Homo sapiens: one gene and its partners. The protein of the gene in region 1 purifies or fractionates together with the protein of each later gene. This does not show direct contact. Each region holds a gene or a part of one and is shown in the gene's direction. Other genes may lie near its edges. The genes, in order: ARHGEF40, PPIL4, P4HA2, P4HA1, DSG1 and ALDH18A1.

Region 1 (3,500 bases):
CCAAGGCTTGGTGAAGGCCGTCAGTCATCCCTATGACCCTCATCCTGCTTTTGGTTCACCCCAGTTTGATGTACTTCACCCTCGGACATAGCCCTGGAACTTTGACCCACTCCCTCAGTGCTTCCCATCAGCCCAGCTTCCCTCTCATCTGCCTTACCAAAGATTTCTTACTCGGTTTCTCATCTGACCCTTGTGGAAACTATTACCATTCACTGTTGTCATTCCCACATTGCAGATGAGATGCAATAGTTCACTCAAAGTTCTATAGATTGGGGTGGTGGGGCTGATGCTGGATCTCAGCCCTTCCTTGCCTTTCCACTCCATGACCCCCTGCCCTCCCACCCCATCTGCCTCAGGTGTTGCAGTGGCTCTCGGGCCCAGGGGAGGAGCAGCTGGCAAGCTTTGCTATGCCTGGGGACACCTTGTCTGCCCTGCAGGAGACAGAGCTGCGATTCCGTGCTTTCAGCGCTGAGGTCCAGGTGAGAAGGGGCTGGAGGGCAGGTGAGAGGAGGCAGGGGGAGACTACCTAGGAGTGAGGACCAGGTCTGAGCGCAGCCTCCCTTCTCCAGGAGCGCCTGGCCCAGGCACGGGAGGCCCTGGCTCTGGAGGAGAATGCCACCTCCCAGAAGGTGCTGGATATCTTTGAACAGCGGCTGGAGCAGGTTGAGAGTGGCCTCCATCGGGCCCTGCGGCTACAGCGCTTCTTCCAGCAGGTGCATGCAGAGCCTTTTCCTTCTGTGCCCCCCCATTTCCATTTATTCACTTCCTTTCTGCCTGGAGAGGCTAATCAAGTTGTTAAAAGTGGAGGCTGAGGGGCCCATCTCCTAGGTTTTTGCTCTTAGCTCTGCCACCTCCTTGCTGAATGGCATGGGGCAAGATACTAAACCTGACTGTGCCTCCATAGATCTACCTCACAGGGCTGCTGTGGGGATTACACGAGGCAATACATAAAAGCCCTTAGCACAGAGCCTGCCACTCATAAATGTCGTATGAGTACCGGTTATTCTTTTATATAGGCTCTTCCATCTCCATACCAACTCCGAGTGACATGGTTAGGCAGTGATGGTGGAACAGTGAGAAAACAGGAGAGTGACGGGCATTGGGAGGCCACAGGCAAGAGGACAAGGGCTGTCACTGGGCATCCTTCGTGAGCAACACAGGCCCTTACCCTTTCTCTCCCATCCCCAACCCCTTTGACTTCGTAGGCACATGAATGGGTGGATGAGGGCTTTGCTCGGCTGGCAGGAGCTGGGCCGGGTCGGGAGGCTGTGCTGGCTGCACTGGCCCTGCGGCGGGCCCCAGAGCCCAGTGCCGGCACCTTCCAGGAGATGCGGGCCCTGGCCCTGGACCTGGGCAGCCCAGCAGCCCTGCGAGAATGGGGCCGCTGCCAGGCCCGCTGCCAAGAGCTAGAGAGGAGGATCCAGCAACACGTGGGAGAGGAGGCGAGCCCACGGGGCTACCGACGACGGCGGGCAGACGGTGCCAGCAGTGGAGGGGCCCAGTGGGGGCCCCGCAGCCCCTCGCCCAGCCTCAGCTCCTTGCTGCTCCCCAGCAGCCCTGGGCCACGGCCAGCCCCATCCCATTGCTCCCTGGCCCCATGTGGAGAGGACTATGAGGAAGAGGGCCCTGAGCTGGCTCCAGAAGCAGAGGGCAGGCCCCCAAGAGCTGTGCTGATCCGAGGCCTGGAGGTCACCAGCACTGAGGTGGTAGACAGGACGTGCTCACCACGGGAACACGTGCTGCTGGGCCGGGCTAGGGGGCCAGACGGACCCTGGGGAGTAGGCACCCCCCGGATGGAGCGCAAGCGAAGCATCAGGTGAGATCCCAGCCCAACTGGTGCTAAGAGGCGGAGCCAACTGCCCAGTAGGAAAAGAAGATGACATTGTTGGGGGTACTGGCTCCCTCCCACACCTCCTCTGCCACTCCTATTGTGCCTGCAGTGCCCAGCAGCGGCTGGTGTCTGAGCTGATTGCCTGTGAACAAGATTACGTGGCCACCTTGAGTGAGCCAGTGCCACCCCCTGGGCCTGAGCTGACGCCTGAACTTCGGGGCACCTGGGCTGCTGCCCTGAGTGCCCGGGAAAGGCTTCGCAGCTTCCACCGGACACACTTTCTGCGGGAGCTTCAGGGCTGCGCCACCCACCCCCTACGCATTGGGGCCTGCTTCCTTCGCCACGTGAGTGATCCCCTCAACTTCTTCCAAGTGCTCTCCCTTCTCTGTTCCAGCCTCATCCATCTGTCCCTCTTTCTCAGTACCCACGGCCCTCTCCTCCCATGTGTGGTCCATGACCTTGGGGCCCAGCCCTGTTCTGTGGGCACTTCTGCCTCTACTCAGCCTCTGCGCCCTGCTCTCAAGAGCTGCCTGGACTATGCTCTCTCCACAGGGAGCCCTTCCCTCCCTGGTAGGCTGAGTGCTCCCTGGTGACCCATCCCTCATTTGGGCTACAGAGAGGATAGAGAGGGGGAAGAGAGAGGCTTGTCTGCAGCGGCCTCACCGGGGACTCCTTATCTGTTCTTTACTGGCACAGGGGGACCAGTTCAGCCTTTATGCACAGTACGTGAAGCACCGACACAAACTGGAGAATGGTCTGGCTGCGCTCAGTCCCTTAAGCAAGGTAACTTTTTCTCCAACCTTCAGGAGAAAAGTAGAGAGGCCAGAAAGACCTAAAAACCCACCCAACAAATCCCTCAGGGCAAAAAACTGGATATGCCCAGGAACATCACCTACCAATCATCTCCTAGAATTGCCGAGGGTGGGACAAGCACCGGACTGGTGAGGCCAGGTTCTTATCCAGTCCACCTGAGGGACTGGGCAGGACTCCTGTTTCCTCTGGGCCTCTATTTCCACAGCTGGTAAATGGGGGCAATAGTCACTATAGCCAGCTCACAGGGAGGATCTAAGCATCAGAAGAGCTCACATCAAAAGACGTACAAGTGACTAAAAGTTCAAAGGCAGTGGCCGGGCGCGGTGACTCACACCTGTAATCCCAGCACTTTGGGAGGCCGAGGCGGGTGGATCACGAGGTCAGGAGATTGAGACTATCTGGCCAATATAGTGAAACCCCATCTCTACTAGAAATACAAAAAAAAAAAAAAAATTAGCCAGGCGTGGTGGCGGGCACCTGTAGTCCCAGCTACTCGGGAGGCTGAGGCAGAAGAATGGCGTGAACCTGGGAGGCGGAGCTTGCAGTGAGCCGAGATTGTGCCACTGCACTCCAGCCTGGGCGACAGAGCAAGACTCCATCTCAGGGGAAAAGAAGAAAAGAAAAGAAAAGTTCAAAGCCAGAAAGTAAAGGGGATTACTATTTTGATTCTTCTTCCATTTCCCTTCAAGATATAGACAGTGATTGCTGGCCTGCAGGCCCCCACCTGCTTTCTTTCCAGGGAGAATGGTTTTGCCTTACTTTAGGGAGCATCTGGGCTTCATCTATACCCAAAAGCCTAGGGTATCACCCACCTACCCCCCAACCCCTGAGCTTGGCCCCCAGAGGCTCCACCCCT
Region 2 (4,049 bases), on another chromosome or scaffold:
CATGGCTTCATTCAGCCACTTTAACTTTTCCCCTTCATACATACAGGGCTCATTTTTCCTTGCTTTTCAGTTTTCACTTACACTACTTTCATTAGCCTTCTTGCAGCCCATTCAGACCCAAGCTCACTTACCCTTTGAGGCTCATCTGAAATCCTAACTTCTCCATGAAACCTTCTCTAATTATTCTAACCTTAAGAGTACTTGTTTGACACATCTCCTAAATGTCAAAGACTATTTGAACCCAGATCTACCTGACTTCAAAGCTTGTGTAGCTTTGAAAACTACTCCCGAGTAGGAGTGATTTTAAAGTTTCAGTCCAATTCAAATATTCAGCTTCCTCAAATTTTTAAAAGAATGAAGTGCTACATAATCTTTTATCTCTTCTATTTTAAATACTCAAAGCACTTAAGTGCCCATTTGTATAATAACATACTGAGGATTTTATAAATTTATACATCAGCCAGCAGTCTCGGCATTTTAAAAGTTTGTCTCAACCAATACAGAAATAAGTACAAGATGTACAGATATAATAGTATATGAATATTTCTATTTTGTATATGTTATAGGAAGCACAAAAATTCTTTTATCTCAGAATGTCATATTTTACTAGAAAATTGATGGCAAAAGGCTAAACCAAAATGCCTACTCATTTTTTCTACCTCAGGGACTCTTATAATATGACAAGAACTATTGGGATTGTGTGGAAAATCACAAATCAGTTTATAATACTGTATTACACAGTGTGATTATTACTATAACAATCCTGTTACATCTGTTTTCACACACTGTCAAACTCAAGGTGTACAGTATCTAGACAGTATATGGAATAACTAATAATTTGCTTAAAACCCAGTCCTTAACCATGGGTATTCATCACTCTGAATTTTAAGCCTTGACATTTATGTCTGCTACAGTGGTATCTGGTGATAGAGTTGAGACCCTTGGGAGTTTAGTCCTTAGAATTTTCCTTTCCTTTGGGCAGTCTTAAGAAAGTTAAATTTTACAAAGTATCTCTTGAAAGAGCATTGGCTGTGGTCTAAGAGTAGAATTAAATGTAGCAATTTTATTATCTTTGGGGCAAAGGATTCTACCAGTGTTTAAAAACTCATTTTAAAGAAATATAATAATTTTGACATAAGCCTAATCAGCTGAGTGAGGTGGCTCATGCCTGTAATCCCAGTACTTTGGGAGGCCGAGGTGGGAGGGGATCACTTGAACCCAGGAGTTTGAGACCACCCTGGGCAACATGGGGAAACCCCGTCTCTACAAAAAAATACAAAAATTAGCCAGGTGTGATGGCACATGCCTGTGGTCTCAGCTACTTAGGAGACTGAGGTGGGAAGGATCGGTTGAGCCTGGGAGGTTGAAGCTACAGTGAGCCATGATCGTGCCACTGCATTCCTGCCTGGGAGACAGCAAGACCTTGTCTCAAAAAAAATTCTCCTCTCTAACTTCTGTCTTTCTAAACATGGAAGATGTATTTGAACATCTAGAGAGGAGCTGTTATAAAATAAAACACTTTAAAAATTAATTGCTCAGACCCAAGTATACATTATCCATTTTCTTTTTTCGAGATGGAGTTTCGCTCTTGTTGCCCAGGCTGGAGTGCAGTGGGGCAATCTTGGCTCACCGCAACCTCTGCCTCCCAGGTTCAAGCAATTCTCCTGCCTCAGCCTCCCGAGTAGCTGGGATTACAGGCATGCGTCCCCACACCTGGCTAATTTTGTATTTTTAGTAGAGTTTCTCCATGTTGGTCAGGCTGGTCTTGAACTCCTGACCTCAGGTGATCCATCCACCTCAACCTCCCAAAGTGCTGGGATTACAGACGTGAGCCACCGCATCCAGCCTCCATTTTCTTATTTAAGACTTACTGACTTGTCTAAGATCTCTTCCTGCTAAGTTATTTCAATGATATCTTCTTATAGGATTCTTATGGGAATTTTAGTAGTTTCATTGCAGATCAATAATGGGACCACGTTTTGGGGGAGTGAAGGGTGGGGAGCTGGGAATAAGACTATACATAATCAGAATTTTTGATTTTGCAGATTGCTCTAGAGACATGTTCTGATTTCAGTTGAGCTATTTCAGTTCCATATTTTTGAAGCTGATCCTTCGTTTCAGCCAAAATAGTAGATACAAATCAATGACGTTGTTAAACCTTTTTCTGAATTATTTTATTGCTTTGTAATTTACAAGATTCTTGACATTAGTGGTAGTGTTCACATTTAAGCTGTTATAACAGCCTTCTAATGGTAGACTTTTCTAAGTTTTATTAATTGAAAATGCCCACAAAATGATTATTTTACTGATTCACTTGTAATTCCCCCTTCCTTTGACAGGATATCTATAGAGAAATGGGGTTTGGTCACTATGAAGAAGAAGAAAGCTGTTGGGAGAAACAAAAGAGTGAAAAGAGAGACCGAACTCAGAACCGAAGTCGTAGCCGATCTCGAGAGAGGGATGGCCATTATAGTAATAGTCATAAATCAAAATACCAAACAGATCTTTATGAAAGAGAAAGGAGTAAAAAGAGAGACCGAAGCAGAAGTCCAAAGAAGTCCAAAGATAAAGAAAAATCTAAGTATAGATGAAAGATGAAGAGGCAGAATTGAGAGGCTAACATATTTACTCTTGTCTAACTTAAGAGTGCCAGGAAAGCAGATGCTTAGATTTTGTGTCAAAGCTTGTTATTTTTTTCATACTAGGATTATGGTCTTTAGATTAATACTGATTATATAGAGCACGGAAAGATAAAGAATTGAACATTTTCTTTGTATACTTTTTTACACTAATTTTATTGTTATACATAAATGGTAGTCTTCATTTTTGAAGTCTTACATTTTCACTCTTTTTTTAATGAAGTATTTCATACTACAAAAATACATAAACGTATATATAAAGGGATAATAAATGTAAATATCTGTGTACTCATCAGCCAGCTTAAGATACAGATGTTGTCGACATTTTAGAAGTTCCCTAAGGCCCTCTCCCTCTCAAATAATTATTTGGAATTTTGTGTTTGTCATTTGTCTATTATAGTTTTACAACATACGTATGTATCTGTAAGTGAAATGTTAATTTTGTATGTTTCTGAATTTTATATAAATGGCAAAATGTTTACTTCTGTGACTTTCTTTCATTTTTATTGCTATATAGTATTATATAAATATACTACAACTTATTCATTCTTGATGGACATTTGAGTTTTGTTTATTTGTTTTTGCTGTTGAAACAATGCTGCTGTGAACATTGTATCTAGCAGTTATATTGCTTGATATATTGATAAAATAATGCCAAATTTGTGTTCTGAAGTGACTGTACTAGTTTATACCTCTCTTGGCACTGTGAGTTACCTTTGTTTCATAGCATCTCCAACACTTAAGTTCAGACTTAAAAATTTGCCAACCTAGTGGATGTTAAGTGGTATCTACCTGTGATTTCCAGCAAGATTACTGTTATCTCTGCTCTTCCATGTGTAAGATGTCATTTTTTTCCTGGCTGCTTTTAAGGTTTTCTGTCACTGGTTGTAAGAAGTTTGATTATGATGTGCTTGCTGTAGTTTTTTTTTCACGTTTCTGCTGCTGCAGCTATTTTACCTGTGGGTTTATGGTTTTCATAGAATTTGGAAATTGGGGGGCATTTTTTCTTCTGTTATGGTTTTCTCTCTGCTCCTCTCATGCTTCTCCTGGGGCTCTGATGACTTGGATGTACGTTAGGCCCCTCAGAATTTTCTCCCAGTGTGCTGATTCTGTGCAGCTTTTTAAAAAGCCTTTTTCTCTCTGTGTTTCATGTTGGGTACTTTCCAGTGCTGTGTCCTCATTGTTTATTAATCTTTCTGTCTAAAGTATCTAATTTCCTTTTAATCGTATCCAGGTATTTTTCACCTCCGACATATTTTTAGTCTTTAGAATTTCTGTCTGGGTCTTTATCTCCCATGTGTCTCCTTCACATGCTCATGCCTTCCTCTATTTTTTTTTTTTTCAACATCTGGAGTGTATTGATAATAGCTCTTTCAGTGTGCTTGCCCATTCTGTCATCTGCATCATTTC
Region 3 (3,500 bases), on another chromosome or scaffold:
TGGGCATGAAAGGGCATGATTAGATGCCCTTGGGTGCTATTCCCATGGCAACCTGCACACATGTATCTTGTCCCACTGGCAGAATTTCATACAATTATCTGTTTACATGTGTCTTCCTTACCAATTCTTCAGCAAATTGAGGCCTGAGATCATGTCTTGTCTTATTTGTGTCTGATTCCAGGGCACAGTGCAGGGGGTCATCATGAAGGAGTCATTCATTCAGGCTACTAAACTGACCAATAGGATTGTAACATGCTTGCTTTCTTTTCACAGTCTCCAATAAGTGGTTCCATGAACGAGGACAGGAGTTCTTGAGACCTTGTGGATCAACAGAAGTTGACTGACATCCTTTTCTGTCCTTCCCCTTCCTGGTCCTTCAGCCCATGTCAACGTGACAGACACCTTTGTATGTTCCTTTGTATGTTCCTATCAGGCTGATTTTTGGAGAAATGAATGTTTGTCTGGAGCAGAGGGAGACCATACTAGGGCGACTCCTGTGTGACTGAAGTCCCAGCCCTTCCATTCAGCCTGTGCCATCCCTGGCCCCAAGGCTAGGATCAAAGTGGCTGCAGCAGAGTTAGCTGTCTAGCGCCTAGCAAGGTGCCTTTGTACCTCAGGTGTTTTAGGTGTGAGATGTTTCAGTGAACCAAAGTTCTGATACCTTGTTTACATGTTTGTTTTTATGGCATTTCTATCTATTGTGGCTTTACCAAAAAATAAAATGTCCCTACCAGAAGCCTTAAAGAGCCTTACTTGGAGTATTTTTAAGACTGGAAGCTTTTACCAGGTTCATCATTTCCTATGCATCACCTTCATGCAGGCAGAGTCTGGATAATGAATGCTTTAGCAGCAAAAAAGCATCTTGGGTCTTGGATTTCAGACCTGGTTTCAACACTTGTGTTCCCTCTAAGTGTCAGTGTCCTTTTCTGGAAAGTAGGGTAAATAGTTTCTCTTTGTCTCCCAGAGAACATAGCACATGTGTTCATGATTGTAATGCTGTTATAATGTGTACTTCATTTTTAAATTTTGAGATAAGAATTGTTCATGATACACAGATGTATACTTAAAAAAATATGAAGGTGAGCAGGAGCACCTGTGTCAACACCAAGTTAGAAAAGAGAACGTTTTCAAGTCAGTACCTCAGGAGCCCCTTGGGAACCCCTCCTAGATCACATCTCCTTCACTGCCCCCAGCACTTTGGAGATAAATCATTGTCTCATGATGTGTGGTACTCATTCCTTTGCTTGTCTTTATAGTTTTACCATCTATGATTAGATCCCTAAATAAGTAGTTATTCTGTTTTCCCTGATTTTGAACTTTTACTAATAGAATGAGAGTAAATATTTTTGGGTATGTGGCTTCTTTTGTTCAACATTGTTTTAAGATTCATCCGTGTTGCTTGTGTAGCTGTAATTTGTTTTAATCTTTATAGTACATTCAGTTTTGTTAATGCTTATTGTAGGACTGTACCATAATACAGGCAGCATGCTGCTGATAAACACTGGAATTGATTTCAGTCTTTGTATATTGTGAATAATGCTGTGATAAACATTTTTATACATGATTCCTGGTGCACATATAAACACATATTTCTGTAGGATATATATCTAGGAGTGGAAATGTGGAGTCTTAATGGTGTTCCAACTTTACTAAATAATGTATTCCAAGGTGGTTATACACATTCTCACCAGGAGTAAATGAGAGTTATTACCCCAATCTTTTCCAGTATTTAGTATTTTCATACTTTTGAATTTTAGCTAGCTTGGTACATGTTACGGACTAAATGTTTGTGTCCCCCCACCAGATTCATATGTTGAAATCTTTTTTTTTTTTTTTTTTTTTGAGACGGAGTCTCGCTCTGTCGCCCAGGCTGGAGTGCAGTGGCGGGATCTCGGCTCACTGCAAGCTCCGCCTCCCGGGTTCACGCCATTCTCCTGCCTCAGCCTCCCAAGTAGCTGGGACTACAGGCGCCCGCCACTACGCCCGGCTAATTTTTTGTATTTTTAGTAGAGACGGGGTTTCACCGTTTTAGCCGGGATGGTCTCGATCTCCTGACCTCGTGATCCGCCCGCCTCGGCCTCCCAAAGTGCTGGGATTACAGGCGTGAGCCACCGCGCCCGGCCCATATGTTGAAATCTTAACCCCCAATGTGATGATATTAGGATGCGGAGCCCTTGGGAGGTCGTAAGCATGGAGCCCACGTGAGTGGGATTAGTGCCCTTATGAAGAGATCCCAGCCCTCTTTCTGCCATGCGAACACACAGCAAGAAGATGCCTGTCTATGAACCAGGGGGCCCTTACCAGAAACAAACCTACTAGCATCTTGATCTCGGACTTTCCAGTTCCCATAACCATGAGAAATAAATGTTTTTAATTCAATGTATGGTATTTTATTATAGCAGCTCTACCTAAGACAGTACATGTATAGTGTCTATTTGAACATTACTGATAATGTTGAACAACTTTTCATGTTTATTAGTTATTAGGTTTCTTCAAGTGTTCTTATTCATACAAATTTTAAAATATGTACACAAGTTCTTTGTTATATATTTTGCAAATATCTTCTGTGGCTTGTCTTTTCACTATTTTAGTTCTGTCTTTTGATAAACAGGAGCTTTTAATTTTTATGTCAAATCTATCAAGCTTTTTCTTTTTGATTTATGTTTTTTATGTCTTATTTGAGAAATCCTTCTATACCCCAAGATCATGAGGATGTTTCCTGTGTTCTCTTCTGAAAGCTATATAGTCTTTGTCATTTAGGTTTATCTTTATACGTGGTATGAAGTGTAAAGTTCTACTTTTAATTTTTTGCATATTTTATTAGGATAGGATGGGCTTTTTCTGTAGTAATAATCCTTAAATCTCAGGGGCTTAATATATAAAATTGTCTCATGCAAAAAACCACTGGGTCTAGGGCAATTGCTATCTACTGCCGTCTAATCTCCCTCTAGTGGCTTCCATTGGTAGACCCTAACAGGAAGCCAGCTGATAAGGGAATCTGGGAAATGTAGTTTACAGAGTGGCAGCTACAGTAGAACAGTAGAGACTACAAGGATGAGCTTGCAGCTGAGAATAGAAACGTGACTGGCACACTAGGTGGTTTGTTTGTAGGTTTTTTCTTTTCCTGTTTGAGACTTTTTTGGATTCTTGAATTTGTACAATGGTATCCTTAATCAATTGTGGAAAATTAAATGATTTTTTCTTTCAGCATTGTCTGTTTCTTCTGTAACTGATTAAATGTAAGTTGGATCATATCATGATATTATCTCTTAATCTGTCTTTCATATTTTTATATATATGCTATATTTGGGGAGAACTTTATAGCTGTTTTGTACAAAGTTCACTAATTCTGTCTTCTATCAAGTGCATACAGGAGTCTGTTTAAGGACTTTAAAGATGTAATTCTTTGTTTTCTGGCTTATACCATTTCTGTTGAAAAGTCGCTATCTGGTCCTTTGTTGTTCCTTTGAAGGTGATTTTGCCTTCACCTGGCTGCTTTA
Region 4 (3,500 bases), on another chromosome or scaffold:
GCTTGAACCCAGGAGGCAGAGGCTGCAGTGAGCCGAGATCAAGGCATTGCAGTGCAGCCTGGGTAACAGAGCAAGACTTTGTCTAAACAAAAACAAAAACAAAAAATTCTTTTTCTCAGAATAGCTACATTCATCTCATCATTATATAAAAGACTTACTAAAAATTAAAGCCTTGGATTTGACTCTAGGTAAAGTGCATGGAGAATAAACATGAATCATTATTTGTTTTAGTATACTATTAGTATAATAATTGAAACAGACTACTCATATTCCTGCTTATGTGACATACTTGTTTTTGTTTTGTTTTGTTTTTTTGAGACAGCTTCTTGCTCTGTCACCCAGGCTGGAGTGTAGTGGCATGATCATGGCTCACTGCAACCTCTACCTCCTGGGCTTAAGCAGTCCTCCCATTTCAGCCCCTCAAGTATGTGGGACTACAGGCAAGTGCCCTCATGTCCGGCTAATTTTTTAAATTTTTTGTAGAGACGAGATTTCGCTGTGTGACCTAGGCTGATCTTGGTCTCCTTGGGCTCAAGTGATCCTCCTACCTCAGCATCCCAAAGTGCTGGGGTTATAGGCATGAGCCACCATGCCAGGCCTGACATACTTGTTTAATTAAGAGAAGTAGGCAACAAAATAACTTATTAATATAATACATAGATGATTGAAGGGAATTTGTTTTGTTGACTGCTCTATTTTTATACTGCCTAATAAAAGCATCTGGGATCTTTGTTTAATAACTTATTTTTTCTTTTTCAGAGCTATCCATTTTTTATTTTGCCCTTAAAAAAATTCCTTTTTTTTTTTTTTTTTTTTTGCCACAAGCATTTAACTGTGAGGTATTTAGGAAAACCTAGTTTTTTTTTTCTTCTAGAAACTTTTTGTCTCTGGGTGCTTTCCAGTTACTTTGTGCCATTTAGAGCAATGCCAGGCATTCATTTAATATTTTCATAAACATGGCTTTTTTTTCATATTTAAACATTTGAACTTTATTTTGATGAGTGAAGGGTTAAAAGAGATACACTACCTTTCTCCTTATTTAAGACCTCGCCTCTCTCACCCAGAAAATAATCATTAATACTGTATTTAAAATTCTGAACATCCTGTTTGAGGCAAAATATTTGCAGAGTACTGCTTCTTTTGTATGTTTTTCCAGAGATACTCTGTATATGCAAGCATGATTATTGTCTCTTATCTGCATAGGAATAGATATTAAAAGTATTATTACTGTAATATATTCATCATATTCTTAACTTTATGTTTAGACCCCTCGGAGACAGAAAAAACTCTTTTGCCGCTACCATGATGGAAACCGTAATCCTAAATTTATTCTGGCTCCAGCTAAACAGGAGGATGAATGGGACAAGCCTCGTATTATTCGCTTCCATGATATTATTTCTGATGCAGAAATTGAAATCGTCAAAGACCTAGCAAAACCAAGGGTAAATAATGTTTTCTTTCTTTCTCCTCAATTTACTGTACCTTTGTATCAATTTTTCTTTGTAAAAAAATAGGATAATTGATATACGAATAATGCCACAGATTTTTTAAAGATATTTTGCCTCAGCATAATGGAGTTACTAATGATGCTGTGTTTATGCCAGTTTTTCCATTTGTTATCAACACAAGTAATGTACCCTTAACTGGGTTTTAAGCACTGAATTATGAAAATTATTGTGAGATTTTTATTCACCATTAACAAATTTGTGTTTCACTGTCTTCCTGATAAACTTTTCTCTGTATTTTGGAGTCTTTTAATCTCAGAGGCTACTCAAAGCCCAGCTTTTTCACTTCTGTATTTTTACTGAAAGAATACCGTGGAAGTATTTTTATTCCCTTTTAGGCACATTGTTACTATTATAAAAAGATATAATTGGGCACAAGTATTATGTTAATTTGAAATGGTGATAGTTTTCTGACTTTAACCCACAGAATTTATCTTAAAAAGAAAAAGAATCTAACGTAAACCCAATCTATAAGCTTAGTGTTGAGCATAAAAACTCTTTAGTGAGAATGTGGAAAAGACTACCCTTTATGCTCTTGCCTTTTCCCCCATCAGCTTGTTCTTAAAACATATTTGGTCTTCTTGATAGTAAAATACAAGCTGCCATCACTTTCATAAAGAGATTGTTGAATAAATTCTAGGCATGCTTTGCTGTCTTACACAGGAGTTGGCAGATTTTTTCCATAAAGGTCAATATTAGATATTTTTTAGGCTTTGGAGGCCATATGATCTCTGTCATGACTATTTAGTTCTGCCATTATAGTGCAAAAGCAGCCAAAGAAAATATGTAAATGAAAGAGTGTGGCTATATTACAGTAAAATTTTATTTCCAGTGGCAGGTAGCAGGCTGAATTTGGTCTGTGGCCATAGTTTGTTGACCCTTATTATATCAAAGGTTTGAATTATCTGGATATCTATACTACAAAATGAAGTTAGAATTTCTTTTAGAGTTTTTCTGCTTCTCCAAATTGGTGGTTTTTTTTTTTTTTGGCCAAAGATTACATTATAAATGCAAAAGACTGGTCTAACATTAATATATATTATTGGTGCCATCCAAGGTAATTAATTCATTTCAACTTGGAGATCAAGTTATATTCTGGAGATTCCTCAATTTGGATTGTTTTTGATCAATAAATTTAATGGCAATAAAATTTCATGCTCTCACAACCTCAGAATCATCGTTCCATTAAAAAAAATTGAAATTATTATCTAGGCGGTCACCTCTTTCTTGCTGTTTTTAACATTTATGAGCTCTTTTCCTCTGCCTTTGTTCTCAGTCCAAGATTATTTCACTGTATATGTTAATGAGAGTGGCTATCTTGAAGGGACAAAAGATTGACCTTAAAATGAATTTTAAACATTAACCTGTGCAAACAGTTCCATCACTAAAAAAAATTAAAGTCAAAGGTTTTGGAATGGATCATTAATTGCAAATAGGCATTCTTCTTTTTTTCCCCTTCTCTCCCCACCCCCAGATGGCTATTTTAACTGTAAATTAGACTTCAAATTTTAGATATGTCTCTTTTTCTTACTGTCATGTCCTTTCACCATTGAAAGAAATTTAATTTCCAATCTCTTTTGTTTGTATGTCCTCCATCTATGCAAAACAAAAAATTGAAGAAAAAAAAAAAACCCCAAAAACCTAAAAAACTAACTGGCTTTCAAGGCTCAGCACAAGGTGACTGGAAGTGTATGGAGTTATTTTCTCTTTTTAGCCTCCTTTGTAAAAACCCTGGAATTCTGACTGGTTGGGTAAATGTGATTCAGTTTTTTGTTTTGTAATGCAACTATTTTGATGGTTGGCTTCACAGCTGAGGCGAGCCACCATTTCAAACCCAATAACAGGAGACTTGGAGACGGTACATTACAGAATTAGCAAAAGGTAAGAGATGTGTATGCTGCATATTTTGCCCTCTAATGAGTGTTTTATACATCTTACAGGAATTATTCATTTAAGGAAAGTGGGTCATTTTCAGTCACCAGCTCAAGTCACCAC
Region 5 (3,500 bases), on another chromosome or scaffold:
TGCTCATTTCTTTTTATTCTTTTTTCTCTAAACTTCCCTTCTCGCTTCATTTCATTCATTTCATCTTCCATTGCTGATACCCTTTCTTCCGGTTGATCACATCAGCTCCTGAGGCTTCTGCATTCTTCACGTAGTTCTCGAGCCTTGGTTTTCAGCTCCATCAGCTCCTTTAAGCACTTCTCTGTATTGGTTATTCTTGTTATACATTCTTCTAAATTTTTTTCAAAGTTTTCAACTTCTTTGCCTTTGGTTTGAATGTCCTCCCATAGCTCAGAGTAATTTGATCGTCTGAAGCCTTCTTCTCTCAGCTTGTCAAAGTCATTCTCCATCCAGCTTTGTTCCGTTGCTGGTGAGGAACTGCGTTCCTTTGGAGGAGGAGAGGTGCTCTGCTTTTTAGAGTTTCCAGTTTTTCTGTTCTGTTTTTTCCCCATCTTTGTGGTTTTATCTACTTTTGGTCTTTGATGATGGTGATGTACAGATGGGTTTTTGGTGTGGATGTCCTTTCTGTTTGTTAGTTTTCCTTCTAACAGAGAGGACCCTCAGCTGCAGGTCTGTTGGAGTACCCTGCCGTGTGAGGTGTCAGTGTGCCCCTGCTGGGGGGTGCCTCCCAGTTAGGCTGCTCGGGGGTCAGGGGTCAGGGACCCACTTGAGGAGGCAGTCTGCCCGTTCTCAGTTCTCCAGCTGCGTGCTGGGAGAACCACTGCTCTCTTCAAAGCTGTCAGACAGGGACATTTAAGTCTGCAGAGGTTACTGCTGTCTTTTTGTTTGTCTGTGCCCTGCCCCCAGAGGTGGAGCCTACAGAGGCAGGCAGGCCTCCTTGAGCTGTGGTGGGCTCCACCCAGTTCGAGCTTCCTGTCTGCTTTGTTTACCTAATCAAGCCTGGGCAATGGCGGGCGCCCCTCCCCCAGCCTCACTGCCGCTTTGCAGTTTGATCTCAGACTGCTGTGCTAGCAATCAGCGAGACTCCGTGGGCGTAGGACCCTCCGAGCCAGGTGCAGGATATAATCTCGTGGTGCGCCGTTTTTTAAGCCCGTCGGAAAAGCGCAGTATTCGGGTGGGAGTGACCCGATTTTCCAGGTGCCGTCCGTCACCCCTTTCTTTGACTCAGAAAGGGAACTCCCTGACCCCTTGCGCTTCCCAAGTGAGGCAATGCCTCGCCCTGCTTCGGCTCGCGCACAGTGGACGCACCCACTGACCTGCACCCACTGTCTGGCACTCCCTAGTGAGATGAACCCGGTACCTCAGATGGAAATGCAGAAATCACCCGTCTTCTGCGTCGCTCACGCTGGGAGCTGTAGACCAGAGCTGTTCCTATTCGGCCATCTTGGCTCCTCCTCGAAACCAATTCATGTGATTTTTTTGTGTATGGTTTTATGTCCAAAGTACACAATTATAAATAAGTCCATCTAAGTAAATTTTTAAAATCATAGTATTAGAATTATACTTAAAATGATTTCTAACCAAATTATTTCAAATAATTATAAAATGATTTTTAGAGCATCTCTAGTATGTTAAAATCTTGTTTTATTTCATTCCTCTTTGGAAATGCTCTGGAAGAAAAACTAATGATAAAGGCTGTTCTATTATTGTTAAATATGCATTCATAATTTCATTTTCTCTTTCTCCTATAAATTCAGAAAGCATATGCTTACGCAGATGAAGATGAAGGACGCCCATCTAATGACTGTTTGCTCATATATGACATCGAAGGTGTAGGTTCCCCTGCTGGCTCTGTGGGTTGTTGTAGCTTCATTGGAGAAGACCTGGATGACAGCTTCTTGGATACCCTGGGACCTAAATTTAAGAAGTTGGCAGACATCAGCCTAGGAAAAGAATCATATCCAGACCTTGATCCTTCTTGGCCACCACAAAGCACTGAACCAGTTTGCCTTCCTCAGGAAACAGAGCCCGTTGTTAGTGGACACCCACCAATCTCCCCACATTTCGGCACTACCACAGTAATTTCTGAGAGCACCTATCCCTCGGGACCTGGTGTACTGCATCCTAAGCCTATTCTCGATCCTCTGGGCTATGGTAATGTCACTGTGACCGAGTCTTACACCACCTCTGACACTCTGAAGCCCTCTGTGCACGTTCACGATAACCGACCAGCATCAAACGTGGTAGTGACAGAGAGAGTGGTCGGCCCAATCTCTGGCGCTGATTTGCATGGAATGTTAGAGATGCCTGACTTGCGAGATGGGTCGAATGTTATAGTGACAGAAAGGGTAATAGCACCAAGCTCTAGTCTACCCACCTCTCTGACTATCCATCATCCTAGAGAGTCTTCAAATGTGGTAGTGACAGAAAGAGTAATCCAACCAACTTCCGGCATGATAGGTAGTCTGAGTATGCACCCCGAGTTAGCCAATGCCCACAATGTCATTGTGACAGAGAGGGTTGTTTCTGGTGCTGGCGTAACTGGAATTAGTGGCACCACTGGGATCAGCGGTGGCATAGGCAGCAGTGGCCTGGTTGGCACCAGCATGGGTGCTGGGAGCGGTGCCCTGAGTGGAGCTGGCATAAGTGGTGGTGGCATTGGCCTGAGCAGCTTGGGAGGGACAGCCAGCATTGGCCACATGAGGAGTTCCTCTGACCATCACTTTAACCAAACCATTGGGTCCGCCTCCCCTAGCACAGCTCGAAGTCGAATCACAAAGTATAGTACCGTGCAATATAGCAAGTAGTCAGGACCCCAGCTCACTTTTTCATAGTCATTGTGGTTTAGATCCAATTCCCACCACTAAAAAACCAACAATGTGATTTATAACGCACAACTTCGTGCTCAGGTCATCTAGGAGCAAGGTGAGAAATCACAATGAGAAAAATAAATGGAAACACCACTGCTAGGGGAGAGCTCTCCTTAGCATTCATAAACTTTTCTCTTATATTAGGACTAAGGAACTAAAACTTGAGGCAGAGTCTTCTTTGTGCCTGAGTGGCCTGTAGTCCATCTCCAGCATGTAACTGGCCTTACGATGGCAATTGGCATCATTCTCCTTGCTCTGTTTTGCTTTTCCATATAGCTCGAGCAAAATTCAAAAAGAACTAAATATGCAATATATGTTCATATCTATGGGAAAAATCTAAAATGTGTGCCAGATGCCCTGTTGGTTTCACAGATAACATAAATAAAAATTCAACCACAGATTTATACAAGGGTTAACCATTTTTTTTAAGTTTGACTACATAGTCAAGTCCACAAGCCATCAAGCACTCCTACCTTAATTATTGCACTAGAGAAAATAAATTCCAAATTAGGAAGTGTTTCCTAGGAGGAAAATTCCATTAGAGAGTGGCAATAGGATGAGGTTTCTTCAGGGTAAACTAGCAATGCCTGAGCCTGAACCTTAATGTGGGGCCTCAGTTAAATCTCCTGTGGAGTCAAGGATTCTTCTGATTCTAGTGTGTGTTTAGTGATAGATGTAGTCTTGACGAATATTGCTTACTGGTGAGGTTGAGGAATATCACACTCGTCTTTCCCTTTACCACTGTGGTTT
Region 6 (3,500 bases), on another chromosome or scaffold:
ACCTGAAAGATTTTTTTTAAATTTGGAAGATACCAAAAAGAGCAGGTGTTTTTTGTGTCTCAAAATATTCCTAACTCTGCATTATTATTTGCTTACATAAAAACTAAGATGGTTGAGGCCTAGAAAGGAGCCACTTACTTTTTCTCTCTTTTCTATAATATAGAGGAGGTGGGAGTTTCCCTAATACAGAGGAGTTTGGAGCAGGAGAGTCAGATTTTTACTCCGAGGGTAAGGGGAAGTAGAGGGAAATAAAATGAATTGTCCAGTATTTTTCATTACTCACTTTTTAAAAAATGTATTCTGCAGATACTTTGGTTAGTGACCACATCGCAGCATGTTGAGTCAAGTTTACCGCTGTGGGTTCCAGCCCTTCAACCAACATCTTCTGCCCTGGGTCAAGTGTACAACCGTCTTCAGATCTCGTATGTACCATAGAAAACTTATGAGTATGTGGGACGTTTGATAGTCAAAGTATGTTTCAACAAGGTTTTCAAAGAGAAAAAAGATGTTTGTTTGTTTGTTTGGAGACAGGGTCTCATTTTGTCACACAGGCTGGAGTGCAGTGGCACAAACATAGCTCCATGCAGTCCAGACCTCTTGGACTCAAGCAATCCTCCTGCCTCAGCCCACCAAGTACTTGGGACTACAGGCACACACCACCGCGCTGACTCTAACTTTTTTATTTTTTGTCGAGATGCGATTTTGCCATGTTGCCCAGGCTGGTCTTGAACTCTTGAGATCAAGCAATCTGCCTGCCTTGGCCTCCCAAAGTGCTGGGATTACAGGCGTGAGCCATCGTGCCCAGCCAAGAAAAAAGGTTTAAAAGAGAGAGAGAGAAAAAAAAGATGTAATTTGGCAGAATTGGACAAAATTCTGCCAAATAGCAAGGAGGCAAAGAGGTAGTCTCCTGGTGAAATGTTCTCAGTGTTTGTGTCAATAAAGTTGACCCCCAAATAAATTTTTACATGCTTTTTTTTTTTCTTGAGTCTCACTCTGTCTCCCAGGTTGGAGTGCAGTGGTGTAATCTCAGCTCACTGCAACCTCTGCTTCCCAGGTTCAAGCGATTCTCCTGCCTCAGCCTCCCAGTTAGCTGGGATTACAGGTGTGCATCACCATACCCAGCTAATTTTGTATTTTTAGTAGAAATAGGGTTTCGCCATGTTGGCCAGGCTGGTCTCGAACTCCTGACCTCAGGTGATCTGCCCGCCTCGGCCTCCCTCCCAAAGTGTTGGGATTACAGGCGTTAGCCACTGTGCCCGGCCCCATGCTATTTTTGTTCATTACTCTTTTTTTGTAATTAAGTTTTAGATTTTGAGCTAATTATAAATTCACTTGCAATTTTAAGAAATAGTACAAAAAGGTCCCTTATACCCTTTACCCAATTTCACCCAGTATCTGAACCAAGGTATTGACGTTGATACGATCAAGATACAGAACATTTCAATCACCACAGGATTTTTTATTTCTCTTTAACAGCCACTGTCCTCTTCCCTATTACTAACCCCTGGCCAACATTAATCTGGTCTACATTTTTATAATTTTGTCCTTATAAAAATGTTATATAAATGGAATTATCCAGTATGTAACCTTTTGGAATTCTGTTTTCTTCAGCATAATTCTCTGGAGATTCATTCAAGTTGCTGTGTGTATCAGTTAGTTCCTTTTTATTACTGAGAAGTATGTAATGCTATGAGTGTATCACAGTTAGTGTAACCATTCACCCATTAAAGGACATCTGGGTTGTTCTCATTTTTTGGCTGTTATGAATAAGGCTGGTATGAACATTGATGTACAGGATTTTGTGTGAACATAGTTTTCATTTCTGTGGGATAAATGCCTAAGAGTGTAGTTGCTGGGTCAGATTGTAGCTACATGTTTAGTTTTTTACATAGTTTGAATGTATGTCCCTACCAAATCTCATATTGAATTGTAATCCCCAGTGTTGGAGGTGGGGCCTGTGGGAGGTGTTTGAGTCATGGGGGTGAATCCCTCATGCCTTGGTGCTGTCCTTGAGATAGTGAGTGACTTCTCACAAGATCTGGTTAAGTGTGTGGCACCACCCCCTCACTCTCTCTTCTTGTTCCCTCTCTCGCCATTGGAGATGCCTGCTTCCCCTTTGCCTTCTGCCATGATTATAAGCTTCCTGAGGCCTCACCAGAAGCTGAGCAGATGCCAGCACCATGCTTCCTGTACAGCCCACAGAACTATGAGCCAGTTAAACCTCTTTTCTTTATAAATTACCTAGCCTCAGGTATTTCTTTACAGCAATGCAAGAATGGCCTAACACAGTTTTATAAGAAACTGTCAAACTGTCTTTGCAGAGTGACAGTACCATTTTACATTCCTACTAGCACTGTATGAGTGATGCACTTTCTCTGCATCTTTACCGTCATTTGATGTGGTCACTCTTTTTTATTTTAGCCATTTTGATAGGTATGTAGTGATAATCACATTGTGGCTTTAATGTGCCTTTCCCTAATAGCTAATGATATTGAACATCTTTTCATGTGTTTATATCCTCTTCAGTGAAATGTTAGTTCATGTCTTTAGCTCATTCTTTTTGTTTTTTTTTGTTTTTTGAGATGGAGTCTTGCCCTGTCACCCAGGCTGGAGTGTAGTGGCGCAATCTCAGCTCACTGCAACCTCTGCCTCCCGGGTTCAAGCGATTCTCCTGCCTCAGTTCCTGAGTAGCTGGGATTACAGGTGCCCACCACCATGCCCAGCCAGTTTTTGTATTTTTAGTAGAAACAGGGTTTTACCATGTTGGCCAGGCTGGTGTCAAACTCCTGACCTCAAGTGATCCCCCCACCTCAGCCTCCCAAAGTCCTGGGATTATAGGCATGAGCCTCCACACCTGGCCTTCAGCTCAGTTTGAATTGGAAAGTTGTTTTTTTTTTAAACTATTGAATTTTGAGAATTCTCTATATCTTCCTGTCTTAGTCCATTTTTATTGCTATAAAGGAATATCTGAGGCTGGGTAATGTATAAAGAAAAGAGGTTTATTTGTCATGGTTCTGCAGGCTGCACAAAAAGCATGGCACCAAAAACTGCATTGGGTGAATGCCTCAGGCTGCTTCTGCTCTTGGAAGAGGATGAAGGGGAGCTGTTGTGTGCAAAATCAGATGGCCAGAGAGGAAGCAAGAGAGAGAAAAGAAAGGGCCAGGCTCTTTTTAACAACCATGTCTCATGGGAACTAAGAGTGAGGACTCATGCATTCCCTCTGAGACTGGCACCAGGCTGTTCATCAGGGATCTGCCCCCGTAATTCAAACACTTCCTACCAGGCCCCACCTCCAACACTGGGGATCAGATTTCAACCTGAGACTTGGAAGGGCCAAACCATATCCAAACCATAGCACTTCCAGGTATTAGTCCTTTGTTGGATAGGTGGTTTGCAAATGTTTTCTCCCAGTCTCATAGCTTGTCATTTTATTCTCTTAAGAGGGTCTTTCATATAGGAAAAGTTTTTCTTTTGATGACGTCAAATTTATCAGCTTTTGT

Evidence for each region.
Region 2: the proteins of ARHGEF40 (region 1) and PPIL4 purify together in Homo sapiens (affinity purification with mass spectrometry; one large-scale study listed by BioGRID and IntAct). This does not show direct contact.
Region 3: the proteins of ARHGEF40 (region 1) and P4HA2 purify together in Homo sapiens (co-immunoprecipitation; one large-scale study listed by IntAct). This does not show direct contact.
Region 4: the proteins of ARHGEF40 (region 1) and P4HA1 purify together in Homo sapiens (affinity purification with mass spectrometry; one large-scale study listed by BioGRID and IntAct). This does not show direct contact.
Region 5: the proteins of ARHGEF40 (region 1) and DSG1 purify together in Homo sapiens (affinity purification with mass spectrometry; one large-scale study listed by BioGRID and IntAct). This does not show direct contact.
Region 6: the proteins of ARHGEF40 (region 1) and ALDH18A1 purify together in Homo sapiens (affinity purification with mass spectrometry; one large-scale study listed by BioGRID and IntAct). This does not show direct contact.

Annotation. Positions count from the first base shown.
Region 1 is NC_000014.9:21,080,304-21,083,803, forward strand, and holds part of ARHGEF40 (rho guanine nucleotide exchange factor 40), read left to right. Parts: intron 1-356; coding exon 357-479; intron 480-569; coding exon 570-713; intron 714-1,016; coding exon of another isoform or gene 1,017-1,151; exon of another isoform or gene 1,152-1,194; intron 1,195-1,205; coding exon 1,206-1,816; intron 1,817-1,940; coding exon 1,941-2,175; intron 2,176-2,527; coding exon 2,528-2,614; intron 2,615-3,500. UniProt on the Homo sapiens protein: May act as a guanine nucleotide exchange factor (GEF).
Region 2 is NC_000006.12:149,503,995-149,508,043, reverse strand, and holds the end of PPIL4 (peptidyl-prolyl cis-trans isomerase-like 4), read left to right. Parts: intron 1-2,339; coding exon 2,340-2,591; 3' UTR 2,592-3,549; downstream 3,550-4,049. UniProt on the Homo sapiens protein: PPIases accelerate the folding of proteins. It catalyzes the cis-trans isomerization of proline imidic peptide bonds in oligopeptides.
Region 3 is NC_000005.10:132,189,854-132,193,353, reverse strand, and holds the end of P4HA2 (prolyl 4-hydroxylase subunit alpha-2 isoform 2 precursor), read left to right. Parts: intron 1-273; coding exon 274-344; 3' UTR 345-3,207; downstream 3,208-3,500. UniProt on the Homo sapiens protein: Catalyzes the post-translational formation of 4-hydroxyproline in -Xaa-Pro-Gly- sequences in collagens and other proteins.
Region 4 is NC_000010.11:73,044,867-73,048,366, reverse strand, and holds part of P4HA1 (prolyl 4-hydroxylase subunit alpha-1 isoform 2 precursor), read left to right. Parts: intron 1-1,265; coding exon 1,266-1,442; intron 1,443-3,315; coding exon 3,316-3,386; intron 3,387-3,500. UniProt on the Homo sapiens protein: Catalyzes the post-translational formation of 4-hydroxyproline in -Xaa-Pro-Gly- sequences in collagens and other proteins.
Region 5 is NC_000018.10:31,352,660-31,356,159, forward strand, and holds part of DSG1 (desmoglein-1 preproprotein), read left to right. Parts: intron 1-1,240; exon of another isoform or gene 1,241-1,277; intron 1,278-1,637; coding exon 1,638-2,687; 3' UTR 2,688-3,500. UniProt on the Homo sapiens protein: Component of intercellular desmosome junctions. Involved in the interaction of plaque proteins and intermediate filaments mediating cell-cell adhesion.
Region 6 is NC_000010.11:95,650,212-95,653,711, reverse strand, and holds part of ALDH18A1 (delta-1-pyrroline-5-carboxylate synthase), read left to right. Parts: intron 1-306; 5' UTR 307-334; coding exon 335-422; intron 423-3,500. UniProt on the Homo sapiens protein: Bifunctional enzyme that converts glutamate to glutamate 5-semialdehyde, an intermediate in the biosynthesis of proline, ornithine and arginine.